Homo sapiens: one gene and its partners. The protein of the gene in region 2 purifies or fractionates together with the protein of the main gene of each other region. This does not show direct contact. Each region holds a gene or a part of one and is shown on either strand. Other genes may lie near its edges. The genes, in order: PIBF1, TSNAXIP1 and CCDC186.

Region 1 (11,016 bases), on a different chromosome or scaffold from region 2:
TTCAAAATACCCCATGAACCTTCTTTGCTTTCTTCTAGAGCTGGACCTCATTGAAACACCAAGAAAACAAACAGCTCTAACACCAGGAGTCCAATATACTTCTGAGTCCTCACAATCGACCAGAGGGACAAAATTCAGTGGGGTGTACTAGCTTTAGAATCACTGCTCACAAGAAACAGTGTAGCACTTTGTTCATCTGGAGTGCTTCACACATAAAGACAAAAATAAAGACATAACTAAACATATAATAACACATACAAATAAAGGTGTTATTTTAAAACATATAAAGAAATATGTCACATACCAATTTATACATAAACAAATAAGTGAAAAAATATATATCATGTGTGTAGTGCTGTTTGCCTGTCTAAGGTGTTATTCCCAGGGCATGTAAGAAGTAAACATATATATACACACATACACACATTAACATACATATACATATTCTTTAATAAAAATATTTTTTAAATATTCTTTCATCAACTCCAGACTCACACTTTCTCACATTTTAACATCTCTAAAATTGGAATGCATTTTACAATCTAAGGCACTTAACAATTCAACTGGAAGTGTTTAACCTTAGCAATGTATGTAATGATGCATCTTACAACAGAGGTGCTTTAGGTTCAATAAATTATGGAAGGCTAACTCTACAATAGGTATTTCTTCATATATTTGAGAGCAAACATCTTATTCCTAAAGAGTCTTCAAGCAGAGAATCCTGAGTGCTCGTATGATAGAGAAAAAAACTCTACTAATATACAGCAGGGCAGCTATTTTGGAGATAACCTGGCAGTACACTTAGTTAAATGAAGGAGACATTTATATATGTCAAAGACATGCTCACAGAGGTCCAGAAGAGAAATGTCTAATGCTGCATGTGTTGCAAGGAGCTGGAGGCAATCTGGATGCCTAGCAATGTAGGAGTAGAAAGACTGGTAGACGCACACAAAGAATTACATAAGAGTTGGAAGCAAAGGACTAGATGTATACAAAGTAATAGATAACTTCAAAAACAGTGCTGAGTAGGAAAAAAGAGATGAGAACTAAAACAAAGCATATAATTTACATTTCTGTAAAGTTAAAAGATACACATTCTCAAGAATACATGTAAACAAAACATTAAAATGTTTGCATTAAGAAATGGAATGAGCTATAGGAATGAAAAGAATAAATACATTAGAAAAACAGCAGCCTTTCAGGGATCAATGATGATTATGTGTCAAACTCAGGAACACGACTATTGCAATCTTCTACATTTTCAGTCAAACTAGAAAACCACAACAAAAACTACACTAAGCACCATGGAAGTAGAAAAATAATAATATTGTGCTGAGTAAGTATAGCTACAAATAAAATAATATGTAAATAATAAGTTTATTATTAGTATACACCAAGCATCTATGAGCTTACATACATTGATTAATCCTCCCGATAATTCCACGGAATAAATACTATTATCATTTTATAGGAAATCACGGAATAAAAACATTAAGGAATTTAGTAAGGCTGGAATTCAAAACCCAAACTGTGTGCATCTAGAACTGTAATTTGGATTTGTTACACTAGAGAGCCTGTCATGAATCAACCAACATTTCTATAATATAAAGCTTACACCTAAAAAGAAGCAAAGCCATTGACAACCAAGGACAATGCAAGTTGAAAACAAATAATACAAGAGGTGGCTGAACAAAATGTAAGTCTGGATATGGTATACAGGTGGCACTTAAAAAAATACTTGTTGACTGAGTGGGTGAATTAATGAATGGGAGATAACCTCAGGTTTCTTCAATGAGTTGCACTAAGGTCTGGAGAGGTGAAGGTAGATGGAGTTCATGTGAAATGCAAAAAGAGTAAGGGAATAGGGATGGGAAACCACTGGATGCATGGATAAACTACCAAGTGACCTAGACTAGGTAGGTGACTGTATAGGGTACCTAAAAGAAAGTGTTTGGAGCTTCACTTGTGTAGAGTATAGGCTTTAGACTTCCTAGGTTTGAATCCTATCTGGCTCTATCACTTTCATCTGAATGGCCTTGGGTATGCTATTAACCACCTAGTGGCTTTGTTTAATCAGAGCAAAATGGGGTTCAGTCATTCATTTAAGAAATAGCTGGGCACTTAATTTGTGTCAGGCACCGTTCTAAGTGCTGGAAATACAACCATGAATACAAAAACATCCCCGTCCTCATGGACCTCATAGTCTATTCACAGACAAATAACAAACAAATTCAGTCCGATGGCCATAAAAGGCACAGAAAATGAAAGGGATGAAACAGATAAGGATGCTATGTTAGTTGAAAACAACAACGGCTAATACGTCTTGTGTGCTTATTTTTTTTTCTCCCCTCAAAATTTGTATATTGAAACCTAATCACCAATGTGAGTAGCAGGAAGTTGGGGCCTTTGGGGTGATTAGGTTATAAGGGTAGAACCCTCACTGTTGGGATTGGTGCCCTTATAAAAGTGATCCCAGAGAGCTAGCTGGGCATGGTGGGGAGCACTTGTAATCCCAGCTACGTGGGAGACTGAGGCAGGAGAATTGCTTGAACCCAAGAGGTGGAGGTTGCAGTGAGCCAAGATTGTGCCACTGAACTCCAGCCTGGGTGACAGAGCAAGACTGTCTCCAACAACAACAACAAAAAACAACAAAATACCTCATATGTTAGATTTTTTAAATTGAGCCTACAAAAGTAATTTATCCATATCTACGTTTAAATCACTCCATATTTCAATACTTAAATTATTATTATTATTTTTTTGAGATAGGGTCTCACTCTGTTACCCAGGCTGGAGTGCAGTGGTACGATCTCAGCTCACTGCAATGTCTGCCCCCGGATTCAAGTGATTCTCCCGCCTCAGCCTCGGAAGTAGCTGGGCCTGCAGGCGCAGCACCACTACGCGGGGCTATTTTATTTTTTTAGTAGCAAGGGTGGTCTCACCATGTTGCTCAGGGTAGTCTCGAACTCCTGAGCTTGGAGCAATCCACTGGCCTCAGCATCCAAAGTGCTGGAATTACAGGTGTGAGCCACCGCACTTGGCCTCCAATTATTATTATTATTATTATTACTAGTTTTTGAGAGTCTTGCTGTGTTGCCCAGGCTGGAGTGCAGTGGCACGATTGTGGCTCACTGCAAACTCTGCCTCCTGGGTTCAAGCAATTCTCCTGCCTCAGCCTCCCGAGCAGCTGGGATTACAGGCACCCACCATCATGGCTGGCTAATTTTTTTTTTTTTTTTTTTTTAAGTAGAGCTGGGGTTTCACAATGTTGGCCAGGTTGGTCTCAAACTCCTGACCTCAGGTGATCCCAACTGACAGATAAAACTGTGTGTATATGTCATGTACAACATAATGTTTTGAAGTATACGTACATTGTGAAATGGTTAACTCTAGCTAATTAAAAAATGTTTTACCTCACATAGTTATTTTAGTAATGAGAACACTTAACATCTGCTGTGTTTTTCAAAAACACAATGTTTTCCAAGATTACAATGTCATTAACTATAGCCACCATGCTGTCCAATAGATCTCTTGAATGTATTCCTCCTATTCAACTGTAATTATGTATCCTTTGACCAACATCTCCCCAACCCTCCTTCACCCCTAACCATGCCAGCCCTTGGTAACCACCATTCTATTCTCTACTTCTATGAACACCAAAATTATTTAAAGGCTGTACTTGTCAAGAAATATAAATGTATCATTTCAAGTTCAGATAATGTGTGTATTTAATTCTTATTTACCTGCCGTTTGAAGACAATAAAGCATATAGAACACAAAATTTAAACCTGATCTTACCTTTGTAAGATAATCCACTTTCAAATTGTCGATCATCATAGTTTTCTGGGATAGCTCAATTTTTAGTAACTGAATATTATGAAGTAGTTCTTTTCGTTCAATTAGCTGCCTGGTGATTCTGACTTTGCCCTCTCGCTCTTCTGATGAGGAAATATCATCCGTAGGAACTGTTGTTTCTAAACTAATATCTTCAGATTCCAGAGAACTAGAGATGTTCACTTTTTTTGACTCCTTTGAAATTTTTCGAGACATTTTTATTATTATGGATCAGTTTTCTTCTCTAATTTGATTTTAATATTCTGTAGGTTAAAAAACATTAATTCAAATGTACTATAAAATTAACTACAGAAATCATGGACTGTATTAAAGAGAGACTAAGGATTCCTTAAATAAATATTAGGCAATTTAGTGCATCCCAAATCTAGAACAGATTATTGCAGTTAAGTTAATGCTCAAATCAAACACATTAATTCCTAATATGAAGTCAGCCTTCGAGAAACTTAAAAAAACAGTTCCTGCGGGGAGGAATCTTACTTGGAGGAAACAAAGAAATGTACAAGATGAAGAAAAAAGCCCATTATAATCAAGAATGGCACCACTAAAACCAACACATGCTCAAAGATAACAGAAATCACGTCTGAGTTGGTCAGGGAAACGTTACACAGAGGTAGCACTTAGAATCTTTAAAGATTTGGACAGGCATGGTAAAAAGGAGAAATCATGCAGTTATTAATGATACGTAAGTGGAAGTAAAAAAACAAAGCCAAGTCTTGGAATAGTTACTCCTTTCACCGCCCCCCCAACACAAACACAAACACACACACACACACACACACACACACACACGCCCTTAACGATCAAGACTGGAAGGCCTTAAATGTCAAAATAGGGTTGGATTTTATTCTACAGGCAATGAGGCATCATTGAAGATGTTTTAAATAGGGAAAACGGGGACAAAAACATTTTTTATAGATAGCAGAATGAAAACAACAGGATATAAGAAAAATTCAAGAAATTCTAAATAGAACTTACTTCTAACTCTCTCATAAGAATGTTAGCAACTACCTTGTTTTAATACCTCATGATATAACAAATTATGCTATTAAATATTTCAGTTTTTCTAAACTGAATGATAAGGAAAGGTGTGTGGAGGGGAAACAGCGAGAACTATACTAAGATCGGCCTCCCTCCTTCTTTTTGAAGGGAAATAGGTAAGAAAAAGTGAATTCAAAGACAAATTCTCTCCTCGATTACAAAGGGCCCGAGACGGGGACTGCCTATACACTCGGCGTGAAAATTAAGCCCCAAACTTGGCAGCTCGGGGGATTCCTTGCCCCACGCGGGAAAGAAAGCGATGATAGTCGCAAGTTACCTCGAAAGTGTCAATTACTCCACACTGAAGCCTTGACCAGCAGCCAGTGCAGACACCGAGGGACCAAAGGCGTCTCCGGTCGGAAGCACAAGGTTGCAGGCCCTCAACAAGGGATTTCAAGGCAGGGGACCGTTAGGACCCGTAACCAAGACAACCATCTCCGCACCCGCAAGGAGGACAGAACCAGCACTCCCACAAGCCGCCGGAAGTCAACTCTCCCGGATGTTCCGAGGAGCGGAAAGCAACACACGTTGTGAGGTGGCGTCCAGAAGGAAGCCCCGCCTAGGCCACGGGCGGAAATGGCTCCTCGCCTTGCTTTGCCGCCCCTCCCCACTCTCGCCCAATCCCCGCGGCCGTCAGAGAGCCAACCAATGTTTATCTCGGCATTTTCCCGCGAGAAGTGTTACTAATATCCGGGAATGGAAAGGGAAGAACCTCCGGGGTTAGGCGTATTCTAGATTGACGCCTTTTGCTGGAAGAGCGCTGCTGGGGTTAGGATTCTGCGCGGCGAGGCAAGATGCTCAAGTCCAAGACGTTCTTAAAAAAGACCCGGGCGGGCGGCGTGATGAAGATCGTGCGCGAGCACTACCTGCGAGACGACATCGGCTGCGGTGCGCCCGGGTGCGCAGCGTGTGGAGGGGCGCACGAGGGGCCGGCCCTGGAGCCGCAGCCCCAGGACCCGGCGAGCAGCGTCTGCCCGCAACCGCACTACTTGCTGCCCGACACTAATGTGTTACTGCACCAGGTGCGTGGGCGGGCGAACCGCGGACAGCGCGGCCCCACGGGGACAAGGGGGTATGACAGGGAAACTGAGGCCCAGGGAGGCGGGTCTTTGGCAGTGTCACATACCTAGCGAAAGGGAAACCCCCTCGGGACCGAAGCTTCCTGTTCCCCAGGCCGAGGTTCTTTTCCTTGTGCTTTAAAAAATTTAGTTCTTGGAGTCGTAGTTCAGACACGTTATTTTTCTAACTCCTGGTGTCTCTTCTGCCTTAGATTGTAAGTGCCTGGAGGCCGGGGACCTGGGCTTCTGTGGCCTCCAGCCTGCGACTCCCAGGCAGCTTGTAAGTGCCTAGGAACAAAAAACTATGTGGGCCAACGTATTCCTTTATTAATACCCTTAATTCTACGAAGTCTTGTGATTGGTCTGTTTAAGTGTGCTTTTTTTAATAGATCTGAAGGGTTTAGTGACTATTGTCTCGTTTTCTATAGCCAAATAGCTTCTTGGCTTAACTTATTCAGTGTTTTTAAAACATAAAGTATTTATGCCCAACATAAAACAGGATTTTATGTTTGACAGAGCTATTTACAAATGAATATAGGAAAAATTAACTTTATCTTTCTTTAAGATTGATGTTCTTGAGGACCCTGCCATCAGGAATGTAATTGTGCTACAAACAGTTCTTCAAGAAGTGAGAAATCGCAGTGCCCCCGTATATAAACGCATCCGAGATGTGACTAATAACCAAGAGAAGCATTTCTATACTTTCACTAATGAGCACCATAGGTAGGAGGAATATTACGTTAAATATCAGAAAACCACAGGATTAGCAAAATTCGGGAGAGGGTTCCTGTGAGTAATTTATGACATTGTCAGAAGATAAGTGATAGATTTCATACCTTATTTAATTCTTACATGGCTGTGCAGAAGATAATGCTAAGTGGATCTCTCTAAGGTCACACAGGCATTGATGGGCTCAAGCCTAAAACCAAGGTCTGCTGACTCCTAGACTACAATAGGTACTTTAATTTCCAAAATGTTTTCATTTTGAATTGGTTTTAGCATGAGTTGGACCATAGAATCTTGGAAGATGAGATTTGCTTAAGTTCCTGGAATACCATATTATGTGAACAACTAACAGAGGGTAATAAAATATATGAGTTTGTGAAGTTTCTATTTTGTTTAAAAATAGAAAGTAGATTTATTCTTAATGGTCTTTTTAAAAGTTTAATACTTTGCAGCTGATTACATTGAGCAAGATTAGGTTAAGGAATAGAATTCTTTTTTTTTTTTTTTTTTTTTTTTTGAGATGGAGTCTCACTCTGTCACCCAGGCTGGAGTGCAGTGGTGTGATCTCTGCTCACTGCAACCTCCACCTCCCAAGTTCAAGCGATTCTTCTGCCTCAGCCTCCTGAGTAGCTGGGATTACAGTCACGCACCACTATGCCAGGCTAATTTTTGTATTTTTAGTAGAGACAGGGTTTCACCATGTTGGTCAGGCTGGTCTCGAATTCCTGACCTCGTGATCCACCTGCCTCAGCCTCTCAAAGTGGTGGGATTACAGGCATGAGCTACCGTGCCTGGCCAGGAATATAATTCTTTGTTGTGCTTTTAGATTCAAGACCTTTGAACTCAGTGTGTGGTCTCAAAAATATGATATTGCCTATTACGTTATATTACATAAATAATCTATGATGAGTATGGTACTTTTATTGGATTAGATCAGGGCTTCTCAATCTTGGCATTATAGATATTTTGAACTGAATAATTTTTTTGTGGTGGAAAGGCTGTTTTATACATTGTAGTATGTTTAACAGTGTTCCTAGCCTATTTGGCAGGATCACCACCCCTTACCCCCCCCACCACCACCACCACCACCACCACTCAGTTGTAATGATACAAAATGCCCTGAGGGGTGAATTCACTCAATTGAGAACCATTGGATTAGAGTGTAGACTTCTGGTAATGAAATTCCATCAGATTATGCACATTTTTAAAAACCTTAATATCTCAACTTTCTTGATTCTTATATCTCAAACTTCAATGTTCTTGTAAAGAATACCAGTAAAGCCCTTGTAGGCTTCTTATTGTTAGTACCTCCTTGAAATCCAGAAATAGCAACATCACTTGTTTTTCAGTGCAGAAAGACCCAAGTTTAAAACCAATTCAAAAATTTATGACTGTGTCTTTCACTGATGAGCTTAAAACATTAGCAGCTGGGCGTGGTGGCTTATGTCTGTAATCCTGGCACTTTGGGAGGTTGAGGTGGGCAGATCACTTGAGGCCAGGAGTTCCAGACCAGCTTAGCCAACCTGGAAAATCCCTGTCTCTTAAAAATACAAAAATTAGCTGGTTATGGTGGTACATGCCTCTAGTCCCAGCTACTTGCGAGGCTGAGTTGGGAGGATCACTTGAACCCGGAGGTAGAGGTTGCAGTAAGCTGAGATCATGCCACTGCACTCCAGCCTGAGCTACAGAGCAAGACTCTGTTTCAAAAAAAAAAAAAAAGCATTAGCAAGTGCATTCAACGATGAGGAATAAAATAATTCTAAAACTATTAATATAAATCAAATTATTAAATTGAATCTATTACCATTAAGTACTGGAAGCTATTGTAGTGAACTTTGCTGTTGTACTTAAACCTGGCTTTGATGAACAGATTTAAAGAAATAGATGAATGTGTTGACATACTTGGGAGTTTAGATAGAAGAAATACGTAATATCTATTAATATACCTGACTTTTCAGTCTCTACATAGCTTCAGCTATTAGTGTTTACCATGGATAATTTATATGCATTATTTATTAATGACTGTAGAATTCTGATTATAAATGATCTAATTATACTATTTGTAGCTTTTAGGAATTGCTATTAACCTACAGTTTGAATGAAATCTGATTATCATACCTGTGAAATTGTATTATAATTTGTCAACAAACTATTATTTAGTGTCTCAACCTAAAGTATAAATTCTGATCTTGAATTTTTCTTTTTAGGAAATAAAATTGTATTAGCCTTTTTCTTGTCCCCTTAATAACATAATTTTCTTCTTTTCCAAGCAAATTGTTTCTTAAAAACTTAATTATAAGAATCTTGATTTCTTCTCTGAGGTGTACATCTGAATACATTCAAGAGAAAAGATATACCATTGACTTTTTCTAGTTTAGTGGTTAAGCATTTATGTGCTAAGAGTTTTCACATATCCTTGTTTCTACTGATTTCCTTTTATTTCGTTTTTTCTTTCCATTTAGAGAAACCTATGTAGAACAAGAACAGGGAGAAAATGCTAATGACAGGAATGATAGAGCGATTCGAGTAGCAGCAAAATGGTACAATGAACATTTGAAAAAAATGTCAGCAGACAACCAGCTGCAAGTTATCTTCATAACAAATGACAGGAGAAACAAAGAGAAAGCCATAGAAGAAGGAATACCAGCTTTCACTTGTAAGTCTAAATGTAGAAGTACTTAGTGCATGTTTGCAAATGCGTGTAAAAATAATCATTAGGCCTATAGTCAGATGTTCACTTTACTATTTAGTATTTTCGTAGTCCTATATAACTTCATGTGATATTTTTGTATTTTTAAATTTCACATAGTTTTTAACCTAAATATGTTGTGCCCAGTGGCTGTTAATTTTCCCCTCACTATTTGCAACTGGTTTAGCAATGAAATCTCATAAATATACTGGAACCCCTGCTTCTGCTTAGGTATGATCACATCAACAGATTTTTGGGTTTTGTTTTTTAAATAAATTGAGGCCAGGTGCTGTAATCCCAGCACTTTGGGAGGTCAGGGCAAGAGGCTTGCTTGAGACCAGGAGTTCAGGACCAGCCTGGGCAACATAGGGAGACTATAGCTCTACAGGAAAAAAAAAAAAAGCCGTGCATGGTAGTATGTAACTATAGTCCCAGCTACTCGGGAGGCTAAGGCAGGAAGGTAGCTTGAGCCCAGGGATTCTAGGCTGTAGTGATGTGTAATTGCGCCGCTGCACTCCAGCCTGAGAGACAGAGTGAGACTCTCAGTGTGTCTCAATGAATGAAAGAATGACGTGTATACTGTCGCAAACAAGACTATCCATTTTTTTCATATCTAAGGAAAAAACACTTATCAAAAACAACATAAACTTATTTTTTCAGGTGAAGAATATGTAAAGAGCCTAACTGCTAACCCCGAACTCATAGATCGTCTTGCTTGTTTGTCTGAAGAAGGGGTATGTTTTTGTTTTGTTTTTGAAAAGTAAAAATATTAAAATAGCCACTTTGGAATATTAGGCATATAGTTACCAAATTTAAAAATTGGAATGTCGGTGGGTAAGCTGGATTTGGAATAGTTGTGTTATAAACAGGAGTGGATGTCATAGGCTTATTGAAATGCCATTCCTAAAGGAGTTAACTTTCTAAAATAGATATATTCCCATTAACCTGAGTAGGGCCTGGTACCTGGTAGCACTGTTTGGTTGAGGAAAAAATGAACGGAGTCCATGGCTGATTTGTGAATAAAGAGTAGCTGCTGACAAATGAAGTGGCAGGCACTGCAGACAGAGGAAAGAAGAGGGAGGGGAGTGTCCAGATAGTAAAGACCTAGAACTTATTCTGTAGGTTAGTAATTTTTCAATTGATTTATAAAGATCTCCCTGAAGGGCTGCTATGAAGAGGAAAGGATTCTGAGATCCCTTCCTTATATGTCAGGCTAAGAAAAAGTAATGGTATATGAATGTGGATTGGTGGAGCAGGAGAGAATGATTGGAAATGGTATTTGTTTGTAAGACCACTCTCATGTCAGTGTGTAACATTAAGCATTTTATCCAGGAAAGATTAGAGGCAGAGAGGTGAGTAAAGGAGTCATTACAATAGCTGATGTGAGAAGGAGTGCTAAGGGAATAATTAAATTCTGAGCATTCATTTTCTTATATATAAATATATAATGTTTAGCAATAATAACTTCATAGTGTTGTTATAAGGATCAAATAAGATGATAACTGTAGCATTAATACAATTTTCATCCTAGTGCCTGGCACATAGGTATGGTAAATATAAATGGTAGCCCTTGTTATAGAAATAGGTTTTAAGTGATAGGACATTATACATAAATCCAGTCTTTACACTTCTGTCATCCCTTCTTACCTT
Region 2 (8,799 bases):
TATTTCCAGCATCTTTGTGATGATCTGGAGGTATTTGCTGCTCATGCTGGCCGCAAGACTGTGAAGCCAGAGGACCTGGAGCTGCTGATGCGGCGGTGAGAAGGCGGAAGGTGTGGGGGTGCTGGCTGGGGGAGTTTTGGTGCTGATTCTGCCTGTCCCTTCTCTTCCTCCACTGCAGGCAGGGCCTGGTCACTGACCAAGTCTCACTGCACGTGCTAGTGGAGCGGCACCTGCCCCTGGAGTACCGGCAGCTGCTCATCCCCTGTGCATACAGTGGCAACTCTGTCTTCCCTGCCCAGTAGTGGCCAGGCTTCAACACTTTCCCTGTCCCCACCTGGGGACTCTTGCCCCCACATATTTCTCCAGGTCTCCTCCCCACCCCCCCAGCATCAATAAAGTGTCATAAACAGAATATTCTGCATTTTGGTGCATGTCCTGGGGCCAGCCAGGCAGGGACTGATTCCCCCCCACAACTCCCCAGCACAGTCTGGAGAATGGCATGGATTCAGACAAACACTTTTATATTAAAAGCTAGGGGTTAGCAGGACTGGAGTACGCAGGCTGCCCACAAGTTCCTAGCTTGCAGGCTCTGGCTCTCGAGGTCCCACACGCCTGATGTCAATCACCTGAAGCCGCTCCAGGGCAGTCTGGAGGATTTCCACCACGGCTTCTTCCTTCTCGTCACCCTCCTCTGGCATTTCCGACTCAGGGAGCTGGAAGGCCTGGCTCATGTAGGTGTTCACTGTCTGCTTGTCCAGGCTGGGGTCGATGGTCATCAGGCCCCCTCGCAGCTTGGGCAGAGTCACTTCCTCATGGCTGCCCCACAGGAAAGAGAGTGACAGGCCCTGACCCCTCCTCTCCGTGCCCCAGACTCCCAGGTGCCCTCCTCTGTGCTGGGCTGAGCAGTGGATGGTGCATGGTGCACAGGGAGACCCAGGGGCTTCAGGGGCCCAGCCTGTGGGACTCGCCTATGGATGAGGGTCACTCACAGTTCTATGCCAAGCTCCTGCTTTAGCTGCTGTAAGTACTCGTCCTTCTCATCCATGTATTGTTCCCAGAGTTTTTGCACAAAGGGCTCACTCTGGCCCTCCTCATCCTGGGAGGGGCCACAAGTCAGGGGGAGGGCACATTGGGTAGGGTCCAGCCAAGGCTAGGGCAGGGGCCAGGCCAGTCCCCGGACCCCACACACCCACCTCCATAAACAGTGAGCGGTAGTTGAGCAAGTCTGCATTGCTGCTGCTGGGATGCCAGCCCCCTGCCTCCATCAGCTCCTGGATTTGCTCTTCTGTCTTGAGAGGGAAGGTACTCTTGAGGACAGTGCTGTAGGGGAGACATGAGGGCCAACAGGGACCTGCTGAGGCCTGCTTGTGCCTCTCCCTAGTGCTCAAAAGGGAGTGAGTGCCGAGGCTGTGGCCCTTCCCACCAGGTGCCCCTTTTCCCTACAGATGCAGGAATAGTTGGGTAGGAGTTGGGGGTAGCCTGGACTGGCCTCTCACTTGAACTGCTCCATGGTTAGTAGCCCCTCGTTCTGACTGTCAGCATTTGTCATCTCCTTCAGCAGCTGGGCTACTGTCTCCTTCTGGGTGACATACACATTCTCACTCCGCTATAAGGAGAGAAGCATTATTCACCTGCTGTTCCTGGGAGTGGTGGGGGCAAAGCTGGTCTATGCTAGGGACAAAGACCCCTCTCAGTCTCCCCAAGGGGAATAGGCCCCAGCTCACCTTTCCCATCAAGACTGCATAGAACTGACTCATAACCTCGTTGGAGTGGAAGATCTTGATATTTTCAAAAATAGTATAAGCCCAGGCCATGGCATCACTGGGCCCAAAGCGATGCTCCAGGAAATTGAAGAAGAAATCTGGGAACGTCTCTTTCTGCGGGATCGAGGAAATGCTCAGTCAGAGTCTTACGGTTGGTTGGCCCTCATCCCTGTCACCTCTGGACCTGCAGAGGACTCTGGATCTGAAGACCATGCTGGGCCAGAGTGGCTGGTGAGATCTGACCTGCTCCTCAGCAAGACGTTCCTTCCAGGCATCCTTGAGGAGGTTGACCACGTCCTTCTTGCTTGGCTTCTTGTTCTCCACGAGGCCATCAAACCGAAGAAAAGCAGGGATGGCTTCCCCATAGCCCTAGGAGGGAGGATATCAGCTCATCTCTGGACCCATCTGTGGCCCCACCCCCAATCAGGGAAGATCCCCAGTTGGTTCCCCAAAAGCTTGTCTGAGCAGCAGGGCATGGCTGTTCTGACTCTGGCCCAAGCCCCACTCCTGGGGCCTCCCCTACCAGACCAGGGAAGAAGTCTTTCTCCCGCAGCAGCCCCGAACCAATCTCTTCCAGGAGCACGTCCACCAGCTGGTCGCTGTTCTTGCCCTCAGCCAGCATCTGCCAGCGCTCTGGGCCCCCAGCCACCACATCTGCATGTGGGGAGAGGGAGCTGGAGTCTGGGCCCACATGTAAGCAGGACCTGGGGCCCTGCCGGCTGCCCTCACCTTTGCACTTGGTCCAGTCAGGCCGCGGCGTGGAAGTGCGCTGGATCTCCTGCAGCTCAGAGAAGAATTGGTCCCGTTCCTTCAGCGTGCTCATGTGCAGCTGCATGAGGATCTCATGCTCCTTGCGAACCTCCTCGTAGCTGGCTCTCAGGGTGTCCAGCTGTGGGCAAGGACATTGGCCCTGGCCCCCCACCTGTGAGACCCCGTCCTACCCTCCTGGCCCTGCCTGCCTGCCAGCACCTGCTCCTGAAGATCCTTGTTGGTCTTCTCCTGCATTTCAAAGTCCCTCCTGGGGACCACATCTCCAAAGTTGGCCTTCATGTTGTTGAGTTCCATCTGCGTGCGGGTCAGGTCTTGCCGGGTCATCTTAAGAGCCAGGGTTAACTTCACAGGGTCCTCCCCCCAGATGCCTGCCAGGGGAAGGGGCCCACCAGCCCGTGTCACCGTGGCTTTCTCAGGGGTTGCCTGAAGCCCTCTGCCCTTCCTGTTTGGGGTTCCCTGGTTCTTGCCCACAGCACTACCAGCCTAGGGTTTCAGGCTAAAGTCTAGAAGCCCAGGAAACTGAGTACCAGGCCTGTCCAGCCCACTGGGAGCCTAGGCTGCCTCAGCTACCAACTGTGTTCCTACAATTCTCAGTTCAACTCAGAAGATACACAGCCCTGCGGGAGGCAGGGACATCTCCCCTCTGAATGGTTATGGAATGAGCAGGTCTTAGGAATGCTGAATGAATGGGGCTTAGGGGTGAGACCAGAGTCTTCCAGCGTCTCAGAGAAGAGAGAAACCCGATTCCCAATTCAGGCTTACCTGGCGACTGGGCTAATGACATGTCCTCCCGCTGGTACCGCAGCTCATTCAGGTCTGCGATGAGGATCTTACAGGCATCTCGCTCACTGAGGTAGTGCAGGTACTCCTCAGCCAAGTTCTTCCTCAGTTTGGTCACCTGGCAAGAAGGTGGCTGTGTGGTCAGGGGCTGCCCCTGGACCCCTGTATGCAGCTGGTCACCCCAGGGAGTGGGCTGGGTTCTGGGGGGCCCCATCAGGGACTGTGAACAGGAAAGGTGAAAGAAGAAGGAGATTGGCCATTTCTGAGAATTCGGCAAGGTGCCAATGTTTCCCCCTGTGGGGAAAGTACTGAGCCTAGCAGCAGGGCAGAGGGTGGAGTTAGCAAGGCTCTGGGGGAAGGTGGTGGCTCAGTGTGTCACTCTCCGTAGAAAGGCAGAGCAGGGTAGGGGGTCACCCTTGTCGTGGAGTTGGCAGGAATTCGGGGACTTGGTCATCATCACACCACTTCCATTCACCTCGCTCTGCAATGAAATCTTCTCCTCATTCTTTTTGTCGATGAGTTTTAGCAAGTTCATCTTCTCTTTCTTGAGCAGGGAGATTTCATATTTCTCCTCAGCTCTCATGGCCAGGATCCTCTCATTGCAGTCCTCATTCACAGTGACAAGCTTGGCCTTCAGGGGCTCCAGAGCCCGAATCTTCTCCCTTTGGTGGGCTAAGCAGAGACAGGTGGGAGAGCTGCTTTGGGGCCATGGAGAACAAACAGCCAGAAGACACCCTAAGGTCATGGGTGAGTGGCTATGTCGCTTGCAAACCCCAAGAATCTCTGCATGCCTTGTTCAAAGCCATGGTCCCTGTTTCAGGCCTTCCTGCACTTGATTTTAAACAAAGGGCAGAGTTCAGATGAAGACCGGGGTCTCTCCTATGTCCTTTCCCCTACAGCCTTAAGTCCTGCAGCTGCACCATGCCCTGCACCTCCTGAGCCTGGCAGGGGAGCCTGCTGACTCCCAGAGGTGCTGACTCTCTCCTGGGGTTCACTCCATTTTCAACAGGGACTGCCCCCCTGTGCTTCTCAATGACAGGTGTTGTCAGGTGCTCTGGGGTGCCCTATCATGGAACAGTCTGTGCAGAATGGCTGAGGGGCCTTGGTGACCTCAAGGCCCAGTTGGTAGCTGCCCCAGCCCTGCTGTGGAGCACCAGAAGGTCGAATAGGATCTTCTCCACCCCTTCCAGGCTGGGACAAGGAGGGGAGCTGCATTCTTTTTTTTTTTTTTTTTTTGCGATGGAGTCTTGTTCTTTTGCCCAGGCTGGAGTGCGGTGGTGTGATCTCAACTCACTGCAACCTCCACCTCCTAGGTTCAAGCAATTCTCCTGCCTCAGTCTCCCAAGTAGCTGGGATTACAGGTGTGTGCCACCATGCGCAGCTAATTTTTTTGTGTTTTTACTAGAGACAGGGTTTCACCATGTTGGCCAGGCTGGTCTCAAACTCCTGACCTCAAGTGATCTACCGCCTCGGCCTCCTAAAGTGCTGGGATTACAGGCGTGAGCCACTACGCCTGGCAGGAGGTGCATTCTTACCCAGCATCCCCTCATACGCATTCTTGATGGAGGATAGTAATGGCTTGTACGTTTTGAAGTCCTCTATGAAGAACTCAAAGATCTCTCTGTAAGGCTGGCAAGAAAAGGGAACCCATCATCTCCTAGCCCACAGCTGCCAACCTTAGTGGGGAACTGTTTTTCTTTTTCTTTTTTCCTGAGACGGAGTGTCGCTCCATCACCCAGGCTGGAGTGCTGTGGTGCAATCTCAGCTCACTGCAACCTCTGCCTCCCAGGTTCAAGTGATTCTCCTGCCTCAGCCTCCTGAGTAGCTGGGATTACAGGCACGCGCCACCACACCTGGCTAATTTTTGTATTTTTAGTAGAGATGAGGTTTCACCATGTTGGCCTGGATGGTCTCGATCTCCTGACCTCGTGATCCACCCACCTCGGCCTCCCAGAGTGCTGGGATTACAGGTGTGAGCCACTGTGCCTGGCACTGTTTTTTTCTTTACTGGGCTTAGCAGTATTCCAGCATGAGGCTGCCAGGTCACTTATATTCAAGTAAATGCCCTAGATACCACCCGGGTACCTCACAGTGCCACGGAGCCTGGGGGGCAGCTCTCTGGAGGCCTGTCCTGATGCTGTCTCTGAGGCCTAGTGGACTGCCATGACCATAGACAGACATCCACTCTGTGCCTGAGCCCCTCTCTGGCTCTCCAGGCAGCCAGCCTCTTGCCTTCTAGACACTGCATCATTGGCCTCTCACTTGTAACCTCTCCCCATCTTAGAGCCTGGTAGATTCAGGAGATTGAAGGTTGTACCCTTGCATCCTGACATGCAAGTAGGGGTGTGGTCTTCTGTCCCATTTGGACACATGGGAGGTTTCTGGAGGCAGCATTGCTCACTGAAATGAGCACAGTCTCCAGAGTCAGCCCTGAGTTTGAAGCCCAGCCCCACTACGCCATAGTGGTATGCTTTCTTCCTTATCTGTTCAGGAGATCGATGTAAGGCCCCAGCCCAGGGCCTTGCACTTGCACATAGCCAGTGCTCAGTAAATGCTTTAGTCAATGACTAAGTCAAAAGGCAGGGATTCTCTGTCATCATCCTTGTTTAAGCAGATTTGGTGATTCTCTCCCTACTATACACTGGTATCTGGGTTGGATCTGATCTCTCTCTCTCTCTCTCTCTCTCTTCCTCCCTCCCTCCTTATGCATCTGTGCTGGTTCCTTAAGCTTGGGGTTGTTGCCACTGGACTGGTAAACACGGTGTGACCCCTGCTTGCCCAACTGCCAGCATTCAGGCTACGTTCACTGATGTCCAGTGGCCCAACCTGGGTACTGGGGATCACAGAGCTGCAGGGACTGGGCACAGCATCCAGGCCACCTGACTCAGGTGAGGAAACTCCAGCCTCAGGAGACTTTTGGATCCACATTGCAGCCTTGCCTGCTCACTGGCGTTTTCTTTTTTTTTTTTTTTTTTTGAGATGGAGTCTCACTCTGTTGCCCAGGCTGGAGTGCAGTGGCGTGAACTTGGCTCACTGCAAGCTCCGCCTCCCAGGTTCATGCCATTCTCCTGCCTCAGCCTCCCGAGCAGCTGGGACTACAGGTGCCTGCCACCACACCTGGCTAATTTTTTTGTATTTTTAGTAGAGACGGGGTTTCACCATGTTAGCCAGGATGGTCTCGATCTCCTGACCTGGTGATCCGCCTGCCTCGGCCTCCCAAACTGCTGGGATTACAGGTGTGAGCCACCGTGCCTGGCCTTCTTTTTTCTGTTGACAGAGTCTCACTCTGTTGCCCAGGCTGTAGTGCAGTGGCATGATCTCGGCTCACTGCAACCTCTGCCGCCTGGGTTCAAGCAATTCTCCTGCCTCAGCCTCCTGAGTAGCTGGGACTACAGGTGTGTACCACCACTGCAGGTTTTGTATTTTTAGTAGAGGCAGGGTTTCACCATGTTGACCAGGCTGGTCTTGAACTCCTGACCTCAAGCGATCCTCCTGCCTCAGCCTCCCGAAGTGCTGGGATTACAGGCATGAGCCACTGTGCCCGGCCTCACTGGCATTTTCATGGGATGTTTCATGCTTCTGTTCAGGGAAGGAGACCCAGGAGAGCTGGGAGAGGTGGGTCTCCCCTGAAGGTCTGAGGTGCTCAGTCCTTGTAGGTGAGGCTTTTTTTTGTTTTTGAGACGGAGTCTCACTCTTGTCGCCCAGGTTGGAGTGCAGTGGTGTGATCTTGTCTCACTGCAACCGCTGCCTCCCGGGTTCAGGGTTCAAGCGATTCTCCTGCCTCAGCCTCCTGAGTAGCTGGGACTACAGGTGCCCACTACCATGCCTGGCTAATTTTTGTACTTTTAGTAGAGACGGGGTTTCGCCATGTTGGCCAGGCTGGTCTTGAACTCCTGACCTCAGGTGGTCCACCCGCCTTGGCCTCCCAAAGTGCTGAGATTACAGGCGTGAGCCACTGTGCCCGGCCGGTAGGTGAAGCTTCTTCCCACCCTTCCCCCGCCCTCCCCAAGTTTCTTCTGTGGCTCTGACCTGCAGCCTTAGTTCCTGGGTGGAATCTGTGCCCAGGTCCAGCAGGAGGAGCTCCTTGCGTAGGTAGTTTTCCAGTTCCTCCAAGTACTGGGGCTTGGCAGTGCGAAAGGGGTGCTGCTGGCAGCTCCTGCAGGGGACAGTGGCTGATATGTGGCCAGCACCCCCACGGGGCCCTTGTGCCCTCAGTCTGGGGCAACACACGCCCCTGCCCTGTCTCCTGGCCCAAAGCCTGGCCCATGCCAGCTCACCCACCATGGGACTGACCCTGGCTTACCCTACTCGCTTCCGGTAGTCATCTGAACAGGGTTTTCGATTTTGCAAAATGGTCTGGCCACTGGTGTATGTGGGCCATGGGGACAGGTGCCCACCCATGGAGAACTGACCAGTCTGCAGGGAGGTACAGGTGGGGTTGCCATGGCAACATTGCTCCCCTTCCTAATGTTTCTCTCCATCTCTCCTCCCCCAGTCCTGACTTTTTTTTTTTGAGACAGTCTTGCTCTGTTGCCCAGGCTGGAGTGTGGTGGCACGATCTTGGCTCACTGCAACCTTCGCCTCCCAGGTTCAAGCTGTTCTCTGCCTCAGCCTCCCGAATAGTTGAGATTACAAGCACCCACCACCACACCCATCTAATTTTTGTATTTTTAGTAGAGACGTGGTTTCACCATCTTGGCCAGGCTGGTCTTGAACTCTTAACCTCGTGATCCACCCACTTTGGCCTCCCAAAGTGCTGGGATTACAGGCGTGAACCACTGTGCCTGGCCAGCCCTGATGTGTTTTACAAACATCTCTCAACATGGTTCATAATTAAGACTGTGGGTTCTTGAGTTAGAGAAGACTCGGGTTAAGTCTCAAATGTCCCTTATTAGCTATGTCACAACTTCTCTGAGCCTTAGTTCTCACGTCTGTAAAATAGGGATGATGGTAGTCTTTGTCACAGTGTATTGATGTGAGGATGCAGTGAGAAAGCATAGTCGGGCGCGGTGGCTCACGCCTGTAATTCCCAGCACTTTCGGAGGCTGAGGTGGGTGGATCACGAGGTCAGGAGATCGAGACTATCCTGGCTAACACGGTGAAACCCCGTCTCTACTAAAAATACAAAAAAAAATTAGGCCGGGCATGGTGGCTCACGCCTGTAATCCCAGCACTTTGCAAGGCCAAGGCGGATGGATCACGAGGTCAGGAGATCGAGACCATCCTGGTTAACACAGTGAAACCCCGTCTCTACTAAAAATACAAAAAATTAGCCGGGCGTGGTGTCGGACACCTGTAGTCCCAGCTACTCTGGAGGCTGAGGCAGGAGAATGGCATGAACCCAGGAGGCGGAGTTTGCAGTGAGCCAAGATTGCGCCACTGCACTCCAGCCTGGCGACAGAGCGAGACTCAGTCTCAAAAAAAAAAAAAAAAAAAAAATTTAGCCAGGTGTGGTGGCATGTGCTTATAGTCCCAGCTACTCAGG
Region 3 (11,119 bases), on a different chromosome or scaffold from region 2:
ATTTAAACTTTCTAGTAGTCACACTTTAAAAAGTAAAAAGAAGCTGGGCGCAGTGGCTCACGCCTGTAATCCCAGCACTTTGAGAGGCCAAGATGGGCAGATCACCTGAGGTCAGGAGTTCAAGACTGGCCTGGCTAACATGGTGAAACCCTGTCTCTACCAAAAATATAAAAACTAGCCAGGCTTGGTGGCGGGCCCCTGTAATCCCAGCTTCTCAGGAGGCTGAGGCAGAAGAATCGCTTGAACCTGGGAGGTAGTGGTTGCTATGAGCCGAGATCGCGCCATTGCACCCCAGCCTGGGCAACAAGAGCGAAACCCCATCTCAAAGATAAAATAAAATAAAATAAAATAAAAAATAAAAATTACAAACAAGTGAGTTTATTAAACCCAATATATCCAAATATTATCATTCCAATATTATCAATCCACATGAAAAAAATGAGCTGTTTTATTTTTATACTAACTCTTCTAAGTTACATGTGTATTTTACACTTACAGCACCTCTCAATTTAGACTAGCTACCTTTGAAGTGCTCAATAGCTATATGCAGCTGGTGGATGCCACATTAGATAGTGCAGATCTAGAAATAAAATAAAGAAGGAAAAGCTTTTCTCTTTAAAAACAACAACAACAACAAAAAAAGCCCACTAATAAGCTCATGAAAGGAAGGGCTCTGGTTCCATTGTACCTGTTCGGTCTGAAGTTTCTGGTCATTGAGTGACCTGACTACCGAAATATGGATTTAGCCTGTTAAGACTCCCTCACACTTTACCATTCTAACTCTGGTTTATATGTGGGGACCCTAGAGCACATAAAAATCAGGATTAAATACATACAATTTTACAAATACAGTCACCTTCCAATCATGCATCAAGTGAAAAATTGTTTTACCAATTGTTTACTGTTATTTTCATTATATAACTTTCTTTGAAAGATGAGACAAAATACTTTTAAGGCTAGAATGCTTCTAATCCTGTTCACAGAAGAAAAAGCACCTCAAAAATAAAGAGCAACTCAGCTTTCCTATTAGTCTGAATACTCACTTTGTTGATTCATGCATCAGAGGAGTTCATTTAAAAACTAGAAAGAGGCCAGGGGCAGTGGTTCATGCCTGTAATCCCAGAACTGGGAGGCCAGGCCAAGGCAAGTGGATCACCTGAGGTCAGGAGTTCAAGACCAGCCTAGCCAACACGGTGAAACCCTGTCTCTAATAAAAATACAAAAATTGGCTGGGTGTGGTTGGTGGCCGCCTATAATCCCAGGTACTCCCGAGGCTGAGGCAGAAGAATCACTTGAACCCAGGAGGCAAAGATTGCAGTGAGCTGAGATTGTGCCACTGAATTCCACCCTGGGTGACAAGAGCAAAACTCTGTCTCAAAGAAAAAACAAAAAATAAATTAAAAAAAAGAAGGAAAAGGACAGGCTAGGAAAGCCAGTAAGCCAGATACAATCTAAAGTATGACAGCCAGCCTTCACAATATAGTTTTTAAAAATACTGAGAATGGAACCATACCAAAATATAAACTTAAAAACATCCTAATGCCAGACATAAACTTTTATATTTCCATTGCTTCCTCCCTGTTGGCAACAACAGTCTAGTTGACTGTCAACTCAAATCGTCTTTTTGCTTATTTTGAACATAACAGAGTATGTTCTACTACATGCAGTACAGGAGTCACATGCATAAGAATAAACTTACATAAAAGGAAATACATCAGGCTATGAGTCCTACTTTGTAAAGGAGAATGGTTTAAATGCCATGCAATTCTCTGCATTTAAAATATGATTTACCTTATAGAACTCCAACCTACATGCAAGTTTTCAGAATTTTTTTTTTTTTTTTTTTTTTTGAGACAAGGTCTCACTCTCTCACCCAGGCTGGAGTACAGTGGCACGATCTCAGCTCACTGCTGCCTCAATCTCCCCGGCTCCAGTGATCCACCCACCTCAGCCTCCTTAGTAGCTGAGATTACAGGCGCATGCTACCATATGCAGCTAATTTTCTATTTTTTTTTTTTTTTGTAGAGACAGGGTTTCACCATGTTGCCCAGGCTGGTCTCAAACTCCTGGGCTCAAGTAATCCGCCCACCTTGGCCTCCCAAAGTGCTACGATTACAGGCATGAGCTGCCACAATCGGCTGCCAGGAATGTATTTATTTTATTAATTGAAGTATAGTCTTCGAAGATTTTTGTCTTTTTTACCTGTTTAATTGTGTTCATATGCTGCTTCTCAGTTTCTGTTCTTTTCTTTAGTTCTTCTCTTAAATTGTCTTTTTCTGAACAAATGTCTACGAAGAGCTCCTGATGCTTCTTATTTTCTTTAATTAACCTAAATATAAAAAGGGCAGTGTATGTAAAACATAATTTAAAATGGAGATAAAATAATATGTGGAATATAATTTCTTTACAGATCAGGGTACAGATATCTATAATTATTCATTATGTTAATAAATTAACATTCCTAAATAATCATTTTATAGTGAAACATAATACTTTGCAAAAGATTCTCTGGCCCATTAGGCTATTAACTTTTCCCTAGAAATATGAATATTTCAAATCAAAATAGAATCATATGAATGAAAAGCACACCCTTCCAGATTTATACCTTCAGGTATCTCAATTATGCACCAATCCTGTCAGCACTGGCACTCTTCAAATAAGTGGTTCTCAGCCACGGGCAATTTTGCCCTTCCAGGCATTTGTCTGAAGACATTTTTGGTTGTCCTAACAAGGGTAGGGGCTGCTACTGGCATCTAGTGGATGGAGGCCAGGGATGCTGCTAAACATCCTACAATGCACAAGACAACTCCAACAACAACAAAGAATCTGGCCCCAAGTGGCGATACTGCTAAAGTTGAAAAGTCTTGCTTCAGATTTTAAAAATATTTTAATGATAGTCTAATAGTTATAATGTACAGTCAATGTAAAACAGCAAAATAAAATCTAAGCAGAAATATCATCTTGAATTCCCCTAGAAAAACAGAAATAAAGTCTCAAAAACTGCCTGCAAAGTGCTTAGAAATGTAAGATGCCTAAGAAAGCTAACAGCAAGTACTCTAGGACTAATTAGCAATAGCTGTAACCTAACATTTATTGCACACTTGCTATTGGCTAAATTTAGCTTTTTTAATTTAAAAAAGTGTATTATTTCATTTAGTATTCAAAATAAGTCTATGAAATTATTATCATTACCATCACTTCTGTTTTACGAATTAAAAAAAAAAAAAACTAGTTAGGCATGATGGCTCATGCCAGGAGTCCCAGGAAAAGCACTTGATCCCAGGAGTTCCAGGCTGCAGTGAGCTCCACTGCACTCCTGCCTGGGCAACAGAATAAGACCTTTGTCTCTAAAAATAAAATAAAAATATTAACAGCAAAACAAAACTGAAGCCTAAGACTTGTTCCAGGTCACACAGCTAGTAAGCAGTTGAACTTTCAATTTTGTTTTGGATCCAGGTATACTTCCAAAGCCCCAGGCCTTTCCACCTTCTACTTTGAAGATCACTCATTAACTCAACCAGTACTTACTCAGCATCTATTTTATGTGGGAAATATGTCAGCAAATAGTCCCTGCCCTCGTGGAACTTACATTCTAGGGGATAAAATAAAAATGGACCCTAGATATATAATAAAATGTCAGCTGGTGATTAAATCCTATTAAGAAAAATAAAGGAGAGCGAAAAGCCAGAGAGTGACTTGAGCTGCTATTTTAGATAAGTAGTCTAGATAGGCCTCTCTGAGAAGGTGACAGCTGAGCCTAGGAATCAGTGAGGAAACAATCATACAAATGTTTGGAAAAAAGGCAAATATATGCATGTTTATTCAAGCCTTTTATGACACAGTGGTTTAACTTAGATCATTTATGTGAGGCATACTCAATTGCTACAGAAAACTACTTGAGACACAAGAGTCCTGCCTATAGTTCACAAGTGAACAACAAAGGGAGGGGGAAGTGAAAAGCAGTAAACACTCAATTTGTTACTTATGTGCCAAATGCATATTCTATATACAGACAACTGTTCTTAATTAAGAATTTTGGTCCCAGCACTTTGGGAGGTGGAGGCGGGTGGATCATGAGGTCAAGAGACCGAGACCACCCTGGCAAACATGGTGAAACCCCGTCTCTACTAAAAATACAAAAATTAGCTGGGTGTGGTAGGGCGTGCCTGTAGTCCCAGCTACTCAGGAGGCTGAGGCAGGAAAATCGCTTGAACCTGGGAAGCGGAGGTGGCAGTGAGCCAAGATCCGCCACTGCACTCTAGCTCAGTGACAGAGCGAGACTCCGTCTCAAAAAAAAAAAAAAAAAAAAAAAAGAATTTTAGGCTAGGCACAGTGGTGCATGCCTGTAATCCTGGCACTTTGGGAGGCCAGTGTGGGTGGATAGCCTGAGTTCTGGAGTTCCAGACTAGCCTGGGCAACATCGTGAAACCCCATCTCTAAAACAAAAAAACCACAAAAGTATTAGCTGAGCCTAGTGGTGCGCACCTGTTGTCCAAGCTACTTGGGATGCTGAGGTGGGAGGACAACTTGAGCACAGGAGGTTGACGCTGCAGTGAGCTGAGATCACACCCACTACACTCCAGCTTGGGCAAGAGAGCAAGACCCTATCTCAAAAAAATAAAATAAAGAATTTTTGGGCCAGGCGCAGTGGCTCACGCCTGTAATCCCAGAACTTTGGGAGGCTGAGGCAGGTAGATCACTTGAGGTCAGGAGTTCAAGACCAGCCTGGCCAACATGGCAAAACCCTGTCTCTACTAAAAATACAAAAATTAGCCGGGTGTAGTGGTAGGCACCTGTAGTCCCAGCTACTTGGGAGCCTGAAGTAGGAGAATTGCTTGAATCCAGGAGGCAGAGGTTGCAGTGAGCTGAGGTCGCGCCACTGCACTCCAGCCTGTGTGACACAGCACAACTCCACCTCAAAAAAAAAAAAAAAATTTGGTTGGAACCTTAGACAGTAATATTGATGTGTTCAAAAATCAAAGAACAGAAATAAAGAGAAGAATGGTGCTTGCCAGGGCACAGGGGGTGAGGGAAAAGGGGAGATATTGGCCAAAGCCTACAGACTTTTCAGTTATAAAATGAGTAAGTTCTGGGGATCTAATATACTCCATGGTGATAACAGTTAATAATATCATATTGTACACTTGAAATTTGTTTAGACAGTAGATCTTAAATGTTCTCACCACACACACACAAAGGTAACTGTGATGTGACCGATGTGGTAACTAACTTGATTGTGGTAATCATTTCACGATGTATATCAAATCATCACATTGTACCTCTTTAAATATATACAATTTTATCAGTTATATTTCAATAAAGCTGGGGGAAAAATGAGGGAATGTATAAACAAAGATTTGGAAATAGATGCATTCATTAAAATTTCAAAGAAAGTAAAAGGAAGTTTTCTTCATAGAAAATTAGATGAAGAAAAAAGTTAAGAAAAAAATTTAGTTGTTTTAGAGTTAACCTGACTCACAAAGTATTTTATTTGGAATTAAAAACATCATGTGTATAACCAAAAATTAACCTTGATTTAAAATAACATCTGACATTTGTGTAATGTCCTAATGTCCACAAACAGTTCCATCAGGTAAGTATTGTCACTCTAAGGTGAAAAATCTTTCACTCAAAGAGGTTGACTTGGCCAAGACAACAGAGCTGGCAAATGCCAATGGGTATCTTCCAAATACCAGACATCAGAATTATGATTATTCCACTCACCCGTGCTGTCACTGTTCTGACAGGATGAAGCAAAAAAGAGAAACCAATTTTCTACCCTATTCCTCATATTTTTAGGTAAATTTAACACCTTGTAACTGGTTCATTTCTAATAACCGTATTTGAAAAAGCTCTAAAGCTCCACTCACAAAGCTCAGATTTTAACTTTGCATTTGTTAGCATGTGGCCTTGAGCAAGTTACTTTTTCTCTCTCTGCGCTTCAGGTAACTCATCTGTACAATGGGGATAACAGCACATGTCACAGAGAGTTCTTGTGAAGAATCCATGAACTAATAAATGTAATATACCAGGCACCTAATTATCAGCATATACATGTTTACTGCTATTATTATTAAATGTATAACATCTTATAATTTATAAGGGAGGTATGAAAATGGTAAGAGTCTAGATCTCAGTAAAGTGGGAAGAGGCATCAGAGATAATCTCAAGAGGAAGGTCTAAAAGAATAGGTACAGGCTACAGGAAAATGAGAAAGTTACCCTATAAAATGCAAGAATAGCAGCAGCACTGATGGTTCAAGTACAAAAGCATACAGTTTATTCACATAATATAGTATTACAGTAAGGATATGAATAGCAACAGCAGGCATTTGTTTGGGGGTAATATCAAGAAGGGCCTTGGAGTCTTGAAGAGATACTTGCAAACCCAAGTTCACAGTAGCATTATTAACAACAGCCAAAAAGCAGAAGGAACCCAGATGTCCATTAATGGATGAATAAACAAAATGTGGTATATACATACAATGCAATATTATTGAGCCTTAAAAAGAAATGAAATTCTGACATGTTACAACATGGATAAATGAGGACATTAGGCTAAATGAAATAAGCCAGTCATGAAATGAAAAGTATATGATTTCACCTACATGAGGTATCATGAGTAGTCAAACTCAGCAACAGAAAGTAGAATGGTGGTTGCCAGGGACTGAGGGCAAGTGGAAATAGTGTTGTTTAACGAATACAGTGTTTCAGATTTGCAAAGTGAAAAAGTTCTGCAGATTGGTTGTCCAACAGTGTGAATATATAATAACACTACTGAAACGTACACATAAAAATGGTTAAGATGGTAAATTTTAAACTATCATGAAAACAGAACTTCACATATCCAAAACTGTATTATTATTTACTGAACGATAATCAATTATTCTGTTCTCTAAATTTTAATGTTTTAAACCAATGAATTTAGAATGCAGATTTTAAGAAAAAGTTGTGGAATTTTATGACTTGTTATTTCCTTTTGAGTTTCTCTTAGTTTTGACAATATACTTCTACATTCTTTCAAAAGTGAAAAATTTTGAGTTGTCTATAAAAATTTCTAGCACGTTAATACATTTACACTATTTAACATATTGAACTCAGATATCTGAAAAACTCGACATTTGCTCACACATTCAGCAACTATACATTTATTGTTCAACTACTATGTGCATGATTCTAATGTGCAAGTAAAAATGAACAAAATGGTATTTTCCTTTAAAGAATTTTATCTCGAATCCCTGTGCCTGTGAGGGAAAAAAAATAACCTAAAGGTATAAAAAACTTACTTTTTTATGATATGTTCCTGCTGCAAATATTTATCTTGCACACACTTTTCAAACAGAACTAATGCATGTTCTCCCTTATTCATTCCATTTGGTACTCGATGTTCTGCAAACTCCGTAGATAAGAGCTCAGATTCTATTTCTTCCAACAAATCCTCTGATGCTGAAACGCTCTTTATTTTTGAAATAAATTTCTTGGTGCAGTCTGTATCATAGGGGCTTTCTGAATAAGTCTTTTCATTAGCTGATTCTGGAAATGTAGATGACCTTAATTCCACCAATATTTGTGTTACTTTCTGTTCTGTTTCATTTGTTTTTGAAATATGTTTAGCAAAATTTCCACTAGGAAAATTAGCTATTTGTTCAGAATTTTCTGAGCCTGTGTCTGTTTTGGCACAAGAATCCTCACCTCCACCATGATCTGGAATATAATTTTCCTGGGCTTCAATTCGATTATTATGCTCATTAGGTTGACATAAAGTTTTATCAGTGTTTAATGACAATAGTTTGGACTCATTTTCTAATTTGCTGCTTTCATTGCCAGAAAACAAGTTGCATGAGTCTTCCTTTAATTCAGGTGTTTTCCCAACATTTTTATCAGAGGAAGTAGAGGCTATGTGGTCTGTCTCTGACATGCTGACTGGCACCAATTCACTTTGTAATTCTTCAAATCTGCTCCTGATCTTCGTTTTACATCTAAGAAATTGAAACATCAAAATTAAAAACCACTTTAAACCAAAACCCCATACAAACTTGCACACACTCTGTGATGTGGAATAACTAACACCACAAATTTTATCACTAACAATTCCTTTAAAAGCCTGTCCTTGAGAAAAAAGAAAAAGGACTAGGACAGCTAACCCAAGCTGGCTAGCTACAAGCAGTAGGGCCACTGCAAAGTCTGTCTTTCCTCCTTCATTTCAGTCAAACAACTTCATTAATTAATTTCAGTTGTAGTCTGGCATTCTCCAATCATCCCCATAAGATGTTAGGTAAGGAGTAACGCTAGCAACTAGACGAGTGCCAAAGAATGCTTAGAATTCCTTCAGCTCTGTAAAGAAAAAAAGACTACCTCATAAATCTGTAAGAAAATACTGGAGAAATAATACACCAATAAAAGCACTAGAAATCACAAACCAAGATAACAAAACAACGCACATTAAAGAAAATAAAAATTTACTAAGAAGGAAACCTAAATAACAAGACACAACTATCTATAGCCCAGAGATCTAGATTTGAGCCATAATGAAGTCAGGGTGTAAAGAATCCCTGGTAGAAATTAGTTTTTCATCCAGGCAGGAATCCAGGAAGTACCATGGTGATTTTCAAACATTCTCATCAGGAAAAAAACAATGTCCAGTACAAATAAAATGGAGCCCATATGCACTGCCTAGGTCAATAAAAGCAACTTTATTAATTTGACCAAGTTAGAGTGTGTGTGTGTGTGTGTGTGTGTGTGTGTGTGTGTGTATATATATATATTTTTTTTTTTTTTTTTTTTTTTGGGATAGAGTCTCACTGTCGTTGCCCGGGCTGGAGTGCAATGGTGAGATCTCGGCTCACTGCTACCTCTGCCTCCCAGGTTCCAGCAATTCTCCTGCCTCAGCCTCCCGAGTAGCTGAGACTACAGGTGCCCATCACTACACCTGGCTAATTTTTTGTATTTTTAGGAAGAGATAGGGTTTCACCAGGTTGGCCAGGCTGGTCTCAAACTCCTGACCTCAGGTGATCCACCTGCCTTGGCCTCCCAAAGTGCTGGAATTACAGGGGTGAGCCACCGCACCCGGCATAGGATAGATTTTTATATTGTTTATGGAGGTTACTATTCTAGCCATTTTATGACAATTAGTCATCTTCAAATATTATCCCACAACACATAATTATAAAATATTTCCACAATCTTGATAAAAAAAATTGTTGACTTCTTTTGTCAGGTATCAACAAAGCATGTACAAGGTAATGAGTTACTGAAACCATGTGAGGTTAGATTAAAAAGAGGACAGATCATAGTTTTGACAGAAATAACAGAGCAATAATTCCAGATAAGAGATATACTAATGGAAAATAGCTCTAGTTTATACATGAGATATAAACTAATGGAAAACTAATGGAGAGATATACTAAATTTTTAAATAACAAAACATGCATGGTTACATCAGGCTGGGATAAAGGTGGTTATCAGAGGATGATGAAAAGAGAGAGAGAAGACTGGTCAGGTAGATTCCATAGAAGGCTAAGCAGGAGTGAATTTTGTTAAGAACAAATCATAGTAAATCACAGTGACTTGTAGACTTAATTACAGTGCAGAGTTTCTAGCACATAGTGGGTTCTCAAATATTTGTTTAATTAAAGCCTGTAAGCACAGAAATGGTAACACTAGTATTTGAGAAACATTATTCTAGGAATGTCGAAAATGGGAGGAATAAGTGTAAGAAAGGAAAAGTAGACCAGCTTGTTTGCTAAATATGCTAATTTCTAGACTGCCCTCTGGGGCATCAACTAAGACAGCCATTGGCCTAAATACTCTACCTCTCTGTATAAATATGTTTCCAAACAACCAAATTATCATTATTTTGCTGCAGATATTTTATAACCAAGCCAAAGCACACACTAGTATTAAAGGCTTGGTTTAGACAATACAAATAAACGGAGTAAATAAAAGACCTCGTAAGTACTCTGTATTCCAAAATCTAGGACAAAATAAAATAATTCTCAAACAGAGGCACTGCCACCTACATTACCTCACCCAAAGTAACTCACTTTAAGATATAACTTGTGGGCTGGGCGTGGTGGCTCACGCCTGTAATCCCAGTACTTTGGGAGGCCAAGGAGGGCAGATCACAAGGTCAGGAGTTCAAGACCAACCTGGCCAAGACGACGAAACCCTGTCTCTACTAAAAATACAAAATTAGCTGGGCGTGGTGGCAGCCGCCTGAAATCCCAGCTACTCGGGGAGCTGAGGCAGAGAACTGCTTGAACCCGGAAGGCAGAGGTTGCAGTGAGCCAAGATTGCGCCACTGCACTCCAGCCTGGGCGACGGAGCGAGACTCTGTCTCAAAAAAAAATTAGCCGGGCATTATGGTGGGTGCCTGTAATCCCAGCTACTCGGGAGGCTGAGACAGGAGAATCGCTTGAACCCAGGAGGCGGAGGTTGTAGTGGGCCAAGATCGTGCCATTGCACTCCAGCCTGGGCAACAGAGCGAGACACTTTGTCTCAAAAAAAAAAAAAGTAAGGAGAGGGAGCACATCTTTGAGTCAAATTATACCTCTTCATGCCAAGCAGCTGGGAACAGCTTCAACTTTTCTTCAGAGAAAACAATGAGTTTGTGACTTCATTTTTTTTTTAATGGCTAGAACCTGTCTTAATTTCTGGAATAAGTTTTTTGTAGTAACCAAAAGTGGCGGCAAAGTTACATCGGACCAAGGGATTCTTAAAGGACTGCACTGCAGAGGAAAGTACAGAGGTTAGGAGTGTTTTACACTGTATGACTGGAGACCCAGTAAGGAAAAAATAAAACCATTTCACGTTTATACCCAGATTTAAGATTCCTCAGTAAACCAGTTGTACTACTTTTCCATTCTTATCTCTCAACACATTCCTGAAATCCTGGCACTCCATCATACTTTACTAGCCCAACCAGTCTAACTCAAAGATTCCCCCAACTTGCGTATTAACATTTCAATGGCTTTGTTCTCAACTAGAATGTTCTTCCCTTAGGTCTATCTGAAGTCTATGTTTAAAGGACCAATTCTAATGTCACATCTTCCTCCAAATTTTCTCTCATCACAAGTACAAAAATAGTCTCTCAGGGTAAATTTAAAAACACTGCATTTACA

The links.
Region 1: the proteins of TSNAXIP1 (region 2) and PIBF1 purify together in Homo sapiens (affinity purification with mass spectrometry; 2 studies listed by BioGRID and IntAct, with this or other methods). This does not show direct contact.
Region 3: the proteins of TSNAXIP1 (region 2) and CCDC186 purify together in Homo sapiens (affinity purification with mass spectrometry; 2 studies listed by BioGRID and IntAct, with this or other methods). This does not show direct contact.

Annotation. Positions count from the first base shown.
Region 1 is NC_000013.11:72,776,504-72,787,519, reverse strand, and holds the start of PIBF1 (progesterone-induced-blocking factor 1), read right to left. Parts: upstream 5,388-11,016; 5' UTR 5,171-5,387; intron 4,098-5,170; 5' UTR 4,051-4,097; coding exon 3,799-4,050; intron 1-3,798. Other genes in the region: DIS3 (exosome complex exonuclease RRP44), read left to right, coding at 5,688-5,915, 6,517-6,674, 9,140-9,333, 10,027-10,100.
Region 2 is NC_000016.10:67,819,770-67,828,568, reverse strand, and holds the end of TSNAXIP1 (translin-associated factor X-interacting protein 1), read right to left. Parts: intron 7,731-8,799; coding exon 7,618-7,730; intron 7,471-7,617; coding exon 7,344-7,470; intron 4,944-7,343; coding exon 4,850-4,943; intron 3,987-4,849; coding exon 3,790-3,986; intron 3,433-3,789; coding exon 3,297-3,432; intron 2,903-3,296; coding exon 2,733-2,902; exon of another isoform or gene 2,674-2,732; coding exon of another isoform or gene 2,653-2,673; coding exon 2,493-2,652; coding exon of another isoform or gene 2,418-2,492; coding exon 2,287-2,417; intron 2,133-2,286; coding exon 2,007-2,132; intron 1,878-2,006; coding exon 1,725-1,877; intron 1,607-1,724; coding exon 1,497-1,606; intron 1,321-1,496; coding exon 1,194-1,320; intron 1,097-1,193; coding exon 990-1,096; intron 817-989; coding exon 576-816; 3' UTR 501-575; downstream 1-500. Other genes in the region: CENPT (centromere protein T), read left to right, coding at 1-95, 179-302. UniProt on the Homo sapiens protein: Possible role in spermatogenesis.
Region 3 is NC_000010.11:114,155,352-114,166,470, forward strand, and holds part of CCDC186 (coiled-coil domain-containing protein 186), read right to left. Parts: intron 7,979-11,119; 5' UTR 7,918-7,978; coding exon 7,286-7,917; coding exon of another isoform or gene 7,282-7,285; exon of another isoform or gene 6,257-7,281; intron 2,330-6,256; coding exon 2,203-2,329; intron 1-2,202.